Linked DNA regions of Homo sapiens. The protein of the gene in region 2 purifies or fractionates together with the protein of the main gene of each other region. This does not show direct contact. Each region holds a gene or a part of one and is shown on either strand. Other genes may lie near its edges. The genes, in order: COTL1 and HEBP1.

Evidence for each region.
Region 1: the proteins of HEBP1 (region 2) and COTL1 fractionate together in Homo sapiens (co-fractionation; one large-scale study listed by BioGRID). This does not show direct contact.

What each region holds. Positions count from the first base shown.
Region 1 is NC_000016.10:84,566,051-84,569,868, forward strand, and holds part of COTL1 (coactosin-like protein), read right to left. Parts: intron 906-3,818; coding exon 795-905; 3' UTR 1-794. UniProt on the Homo sapiens protein: Binds to F-actin in a calcium-independent manner. Has no direct effect on actin depolymerization. Acts as a chaperone for ALOX5 (5LO), influencing both its stability and activity in leukotrienes synthesis.
Region 2 is NC_000012.12:12,976,044-12,979,861, reverse strand, and holds part of HEBP1 (heme-binding protein 1), read left to right. Parts: exon of another isoform or gene 1-25; intron 26-239; exon of another isoform or gene 240-431; intron 432-840; exon of another isoform or gene 841-921; intron 922-3,818.

The DNA.
Region 1 (3,818 bases), on a different chromosome or scaffold from region 2:
CCCTCCGTCAACTCTGGGCTCAGACCTTTGCCCTTCTCTGTGTCACAAGGAAATTTCGGTCAAGAGGGTGGGAACAGGTGGTTTCAGACCGTGCAGCAAAGCCACTGCCAGGTAAGTTTTAAGGCAAATTTTATCTCTTCTTATTCAGTCTGAGCCGGACCTAACCTTCTCACCACCGAGCAATCCTGCCTATGCTGGACATGCATCTTAGGCAACTCCGGATGGAGGTGGGATGAGGGAGCCCGGGGCAGATACCAGGAGGTCTGGGCCTTAGTAGGGAATGGACGTGTGTGCTTATGAAGGCTGCAGGCACCGGGCACAGCTCCTGGCCCAGCTGCCCCTCAGTGGTACACAGGAAGCAGGGTCCAGGAAAACTGAGATGGCAAAATAGGCCCGGGCTCTGGAAAGCAACGTGAGGTCATGCAGATCTCACTAGGCAGACCTCGTCGCGTGGAAGAGAAATGCCAGGAAAAGGGGTCACTGCAGGAGGCACCTCGGATCTGATGGCAGGCAGGACCTTGCATCAAAATGACTTTTCTTTAGAACAAAAAAGAGGGGGAGAAAAGAAAAAGAAGATCAAAGAAAGAGGTTCCATGAGCGTCATGAGATAGGACACGGCAGGGTTCTAAGGGAAGCGGGAAGGTGGGGGCTGTGGACACAGGGTGGCGGGCGCTGCCTCTCATGGCTTCTTTTCTCCCTGGTGGGCTGGTGGGCTAGTAGCTGAGGCCGGCGGTCCTCTCCCCCGGGGAGCAGGCAGATGACTTTGGCAAGGGGTGGTGTGGCGGGGGCTGGGGTTACTCCGTCTGGGCGTCGTAATTGGCTCCCCCCGCCTTCTTCAGCTCGCTCTTGATGAAATCTTCCTCCAGCTCCTTCCGATCACTGATCACAAACTCCTTAGCGAAATTCTGCAAGAACAAAGGAAAACACAGCGTTCCTATTAAGAAGGAAGGCACAGGATGTGAGGGTGGCTCAGGCAACACACTGGGAAGCAAAGCACTGAAAACCCTGATGAGAGATGGAAATGGAAATTCAGCAGCAGAGTCAGTCAATGGAAATTCAGCAGCAGAGTCAATGGAAATTGAACAGCAGAGTCATCTGGCAGAAAAAACCTGACTGGGAGGAGGGAGTGGGGCAGATCTGATGCTGCGTCTTCCCATGTCCGTGGGGATGGCCCGAGGAAGCTGGGGCTTGAATTTGGGCTGTTACCTTGGCCAAGTCCCTTCAATTCTCTGTGCCTCAACTTTCTCATCTGTAAAAAACTATCTCGTCAGGAAAATAATAGGTTACGAGGTTGGAAAGGCTCACGGGTGTGCAGGCACTCCAAAAAAAAGAAAAGGACAAAAGCTCAGATTGGTGTCTTTTGCCCATATCCATGATGTAAATAGTCCCCCAGTGGCTGACGTCAAGCTATCAAAGTGATGTCACCATACGTGGAGGTGGAAGGAGACAGGCGTAATTGGCTCTCGCCAGCTGGGACAAGCAAGCTTCAGCCACCAATGTTCCTAATGACGCAGGAGCCTCCAGTCCTGGGTCTGCCATGGGCTCTCCACCCGCACTGAGTTACACGAGGGTAGAGGCTCTGCCTTCTTTCAACAAATACCACGCCAGGCTGTGGGGCTACAGGGCTCAGCAAAATGGATGCAGTCAGTCTTTCCTCTTGCAGTACACAGGTTTCACCCATAGAACCCGCAGGCACCCATGATGCACTCAGTAAACGCTTGTGGCATGAATGAGGGAACCAGGTGACCTGGCTTATCAGACACCCTTAAGCCATGATGATACACAGTTACTGCCATATGTGGATCATAAGACTTTAACAAACAAAATTTCAGAACGATGACGGACAGCTTGACAAAAAAAAGCTATCAAAACCACAAATAACACGTCTAAAGGTAAGAAAATCATCCACATTAAAAAAAAAAGCCCATAAGGAAATAACATAAACAATGACCACCATTTTTCTTTTTCTTGAGAGAAAAGCCTGTTGCCCAGGCTGGAGTGCAGTGGCGCAATCTTGGCTCACAGCAACCTCTGCCCCCAGGGTTCAAGCCATTCTCATGTCTCAGCCTCCCAAGTAGCTCGAACTACAGGCGTCTGCCACCACACCCAGCTATTTTTTGTATTTTTAGTAGAAGCAGGGTTTCGCCACATTGGCCAGGCTGGTCTCAAACTCCTGGCCTTAAGTGATCCGCCCAGCTTGGCCTCCCAAGGTGTTGGCACTACAGGCGTGAGCCACCACGCCCGGCTAACCACAATTATTAAGCACTTATGTGTACCAGCACAGTGCCACAGTACTGAGAATGACACACAGTAGTAAATATGAATCATGGAAGGTGGAAGCAACCCCTATGTCCATCAACAGAGGAGTGGATTATCAAAACACGGTCCGTCCACACAATGGAATATTCCTCAGCCACAGAGAGGAATGAAGCGCTGCCACACGCAACTACATGGATGAACCTCGGAAACAGGATGCTGAGTGAAAGAAGCCAGGCATGAAGACCATGTACTGTCAGCTGCCATTGGTATAAATGTCTAAAAAAGGCAAACCCATACAGACAGAAAGCAGACTCGTGGTTACACAGAGCTGGAGATGGGAACAGGAAATGATAGAGACGTTCTAAAATTGGGATTGTGGTAATGGGTGCACAACTCCACAAATTCACGAAAAAGTACTGAAAAAGTACACTTAGGATGACTTGATTTTGAGGTACATACATCATACCTCAATCAAGTTCTTTTTAAAAAGGCCCGTAAGGTGATCAACATTATTTCCATTTTAAAGGTGAGGAAACAAAGGCTGGAAATTACAATGCTTGTCCGAAGTCAGACAACCAGAAGGTCCAGTTGATGCCAAAGCTGGCGTCTTGAAAGAGCCACCATCTCCTTTTGGGGTGATGAAAAAGTTTTGGAACCAGACAGAGGTAGGGCTTGCACAACACTGTGAATGTTCTGAAAGCCACTGAATTGTACACTTTAAAATGGTTCAGGCCAGGTGCGGTGGCTCACGCCCGTCATCCCAGCACTTTGGAGGCCGAGGCAGGCAGATCACCTGAGGTCAGGAGTTCGAGACCAGCCTGGCCAACATGGCGGAACCCCATCTCTACTAAAACTACAAAAATCAGCCGGGCGTGGTGGCGGGCGCCTGCAATCCCAGCTACTGGGGAGGCTGAGGCAGGAGAATCGCTTGAACCCGGGAGGCGGACGTTGCAGTGAGCCAAGATCGCGCCACTGCACTCCAGCCTGGGCGACAGGGTGAGATCTGTCTCAAAATAAATAAATAAACATAAAAAGGTTCATTTTATGTTAAATGAATTCCACCACAATTAAAAAATAAAAAACAAAAAAGTCGCCATATTGCCAAGAATGATGAGCCCAGGAGCATCCCGAAGTCAAGCTTTACAATAAAAAGACAATGCATTTGGCGCGCAAAGCCACTGAGAACACTAACAAAGTGGAGAACGGGAGGTTAATTTTTATCAAGCAGCTGATGTGTGCCAGGAACAGCCTCACTCATGTTCTCGTTCAGCCCTCAGTATATTAACTTTATTTTATTTTACTTTTTGAAGATAAGACTCATGGGCTGGGCTTGGAGAGATTTGCCCAGAATGACAGAACACCCTTGAGATCCTTTCTGTTCCCACCCCACTACAGTGTGTTACTAAGTGTATGTGATCCGTGCAATGAAAGAACACAAGTTGGATGTAAGAGCCAGAAAGGAGAATTGAGAATTAATGTATTTCTCAACCCTGAGCCCCACGGCATGAGGGAGGGGCAGAGAGCTTTCAGAAGGAGGAAGCCAACAGCTTAAGATGCTT
Region 2 (3,818 bases):
TGGAATCAGGGGTGTGTGTATGTTTGAGATTCCTCAGTTCCCATGGTAACCAAATTCTTTATTCAGAATACTGAGCTCTGACATTGGGTGAGATAAAACACTGCCCTGGAGGAGAGCTTCTTTCAAGATGAGGCGTTTATAGATAAAGACGTATTCACAGGCTTACAAAGATAATGTATAGACTTCACGTTTCTTTCTTTTAGGGGCTCAAAGCACTTTATGAGCATTTCTTAACTCACCTTCAAGTGCGCGCAGGAATTCGGAGAGCAGTGGGCCCACTGTTATTGTGCTCCATGTCCAGATTGGAAGCTGAGGCACGAACCAATGAGGCAAAGTGTCTGTGAACACAAGCAGAGTCAGCCAGAGCTAGGCTCCCTTCATACACCAGGGGATTCCGGGTAGGGTTCAGTTTCTGGCTTGTTTGTGCAGTTCTGTGATGGGAGTCAGTGTGGTTGGTTAAATTAGCAGAGAGGAGAACTCATGTATCTGTTCCCATAGCCCACCCAGTTTGTTTGTTTTCCAGTAAAAGGATTCTACGATGAAGCAATAGGGAAAATTTTATCTGCATTACCAGCATTTCAGTCTGCCTGGGAATAAATGTAAAGAATTGGGGGTTTTCCCGGAGTGAATTTTAGGACTCCCTGAGTGATGACATTCTCCATCTCACTCTCTGCTGGGTTTCCTTCTGCTTCTCAGCCCCTTCTCACTGTCCTTTGACCGGTCCTCTTTCTTCACCCACCATTTAGATATTAGGATTCTAAGGAGCAAGCTTCTGGCCTGCTGTTTGCACAACATCTCTACCACATGTCACTTCTTACCATGATTATAGCCAGTACCTACCCACTGGGCACTCCCAAGTTTCTGTCACTAGATCCTTCTCCTTCCCAAATTGGTATCTCTGACTCCAGTTCTGTCCCAAGTCTAAGGAGATTTTTACATGGTCAGACACACATTTAGATAATAATTGTTGCATGAATGTATTTCACAGAGGGCCCTTAATATTCATATGCCCCCCAAACTAAATCATGAACACCCCTACAGCTGCCCCTCCTGCCTAATGTTACTCTTCAGCCTTTAATCCCTATTCTGGTTAGCGGCATCTTCTTCTACCCAGAGGCTTAACTGGAAGCCCTGGAGAATCCTCTCTTCCTTCCTCTCTCTTACCTCCCTCCACATACAGGTACCTCTCAAATCTGCCTTTCTCCCACCTTCATCATCTCACACTTGGCTGTTCCTGGGCTCCGGTGGCCCCACATCTCTCAACCCCTTGCCATTTCCCCTGTCCCTCCACTGCCAGCAGAGGGATCCTTCCAAAGCACAATTGGATCGTGCCAGTCCTCTACTTTAAAACCCTTTCCAGGCCGGGCGTGGTGGCTCACACCTGTAATCCCAGCACTTTAGGAGGCTGAGGCGGGTGGATCACCTGAGGTCAGGAGTTTGAGACCAGCCTGGCCAATACGGCAAAACCCCATCTGTACTAAAAATACAAAAATTAGCTGGGCGTGTGCCTGTAGTCCCAGCTACTCGGGAAGCTAAGGCAGGAGAATCACTTGAACCTGGGAGGCAGAGGTTGCAATGAGCCGAGATTGCGCCACTGCACTTCAGCCTGGGTAATAGAGTGAGACTCTGTCTCAAAAAAAAAAAAAAAAAAAAAAAAAAAAACCCTTTCGTAGGTCTACCTGTGCATATAGGATGAGGTTCAAACTCTTTAGCATGGCATTCAAGGCCTTCGCATCTGGCTGCAGTGGATCCACTTCTCCTGTTTCAGTTCCCACCACTGTCCCCTCAGATGTTTATTATGTGAATGAGTGAGTGAAACTTATGTAACCACTTCACTCACTAGGTCCTAAGTGCTGTCATCTTTAGCTCTGTCAGGCTGAAGACATCACTTTCATTGTTTAGCCCAGAATTGTTCATTTAACCAAGGGGTCCAACATATTCAGGCACTGTGTTAGGTGCTCAGTGTACATCAGTGACCAAAAAATAACAAAAATCCTGCCATTGTGCAGCCTATATTCTATCAGAGGACACAAACCATAAACAATAAACTTAATGAGTAAATTATATAGTATGTTAAAAGGTGATAAGTGCTGTTAAAAAAGAAAGAAAGAAAAAGTAAAACATAGGAAGAAGATTGGGATGGGGTTAAAGAATGGGGTTTACAAGGTAACAAAGCATTTTAAGAATAGGCCTAATTGAGAAAGTGAGAATTGTTCATTGAGCCAGTTCATAATATTACTATGGTTTTTTTTAGTTGTATTTTGTGTTTTTGTTTTGGAGACAGGATCTCACTATGTTGTCCAGGCTGGAATGCAGTGGCTATTCACAGATGTGATCATAGCACAGTGCAGCCTCAACTCCTGGCCTTGATCAGTCCTCCTGCCTCAGCCTCCCAAGTAGCTGGGACCACAGGCATGCACCACAACACTCAGCTACATGGTATTTCGTTAGATTACCATCATGTCCCTCACCCTGGAGTCAGGGAATTAAAAGGCTCTTCTGAGCAAACTGCCAAGTAACAATAATAGCTACTGTTTGTTGTGAGCTTACTACGTGACAGGCTCTGCGCTGAGCAGTTTGCATAGTCTTTTCTCCTTTAATCTTTACAGTAGCCTTCGAAGATTGATGTTATCACTATCCCTATTTTACCAGTGAAAAACCTGAAGATTTGAGAAATTTTAGAATTAGCTTAAGACCTAGAAAGGGCAGCACTAGGATTTGAGCACACACTAGCCATTTTGCCTCTAACTGATGAAGGAAGACATTTGAGGAGCACTCCTTTGGAGCTTTCCAAAATCAGTATTTAAAGAGCCAACATTGTCCCTTTTCCTAGAGAACAGTTCAGTGTCACAGCACAAGTAGGGGGTGCAGAGAGCACTCAACACCTGCTTCCACCTCCAGCACTTGATTCATTTCAGACAAATGGTTCTCCAACTAAAGACATGGTTCATAAAAAACTCCAGTGTCTTACAGGCTCTTATTGCCTGAAAAAAGTCTTTCCTGGATGTTCATTGTCTGTCTACTAACCCAGTTTCCTCTCATTTGAACCTCAATGAAGCTAGAGCCCAACTTTCTTCATCTCCCTTATAATCTCTTCAATATATTTGAAGAATCAAGCCTCTGCTATTCAAAATTGGTCTCAGTTTCATCCATGTTCTGTAGCTGTTGTCTAGACATTGGAACAACCAATCCATTACAGAAAACATCCTGGGTGTTCACATCAGTGATGCTGCAATCCACATGCTGAATGCTTGTCCAGCATGACTAACCACTTGTAAAAGAGCAAAGCATGATTCAGAGGACTCCACCAAAAATAATGCATTATTTGGCCTAATCTTGGCCTGGTGCAAATTCAGACTTTTGAGTCATACAGCTCATTAGAAATCGGGATGTACTTGACTCTAATAAAAATTTTAGTGCAACCCAGATTTAGAGTGGTATATTTAGGCTAGGCTACAAGACAAATTTTGGAACAGAAGCACATGACGTAAGGGAGAGAATAATAATCTTGAAAAGAAAGGCTTTATTGCTTCTCTGTCCCCAATTTCTGCCATCAAAAGAAATACCAGATTTAGGAACAGTCTCTTTCCTTACTAGAAAAAGAAGGCTTTCATGATTTGAGCAGAAGAAAGGATTTATGAGAAGTGATTTCTTTATTTGGGGCATGTTTAAAGCTTGTGTGGGGCCCTCCCAAGTCTTCCTTGGGTCTTTGCCTTTGTTAGCTCTGAGATTTTTACTTTTTTAGTTTTGGTTTTTGGTTTGTTTTTTTTTTTTTTTTTTTTTTGACACAGGGTCTTGTGTTGCCCAGGCTAGCCTAG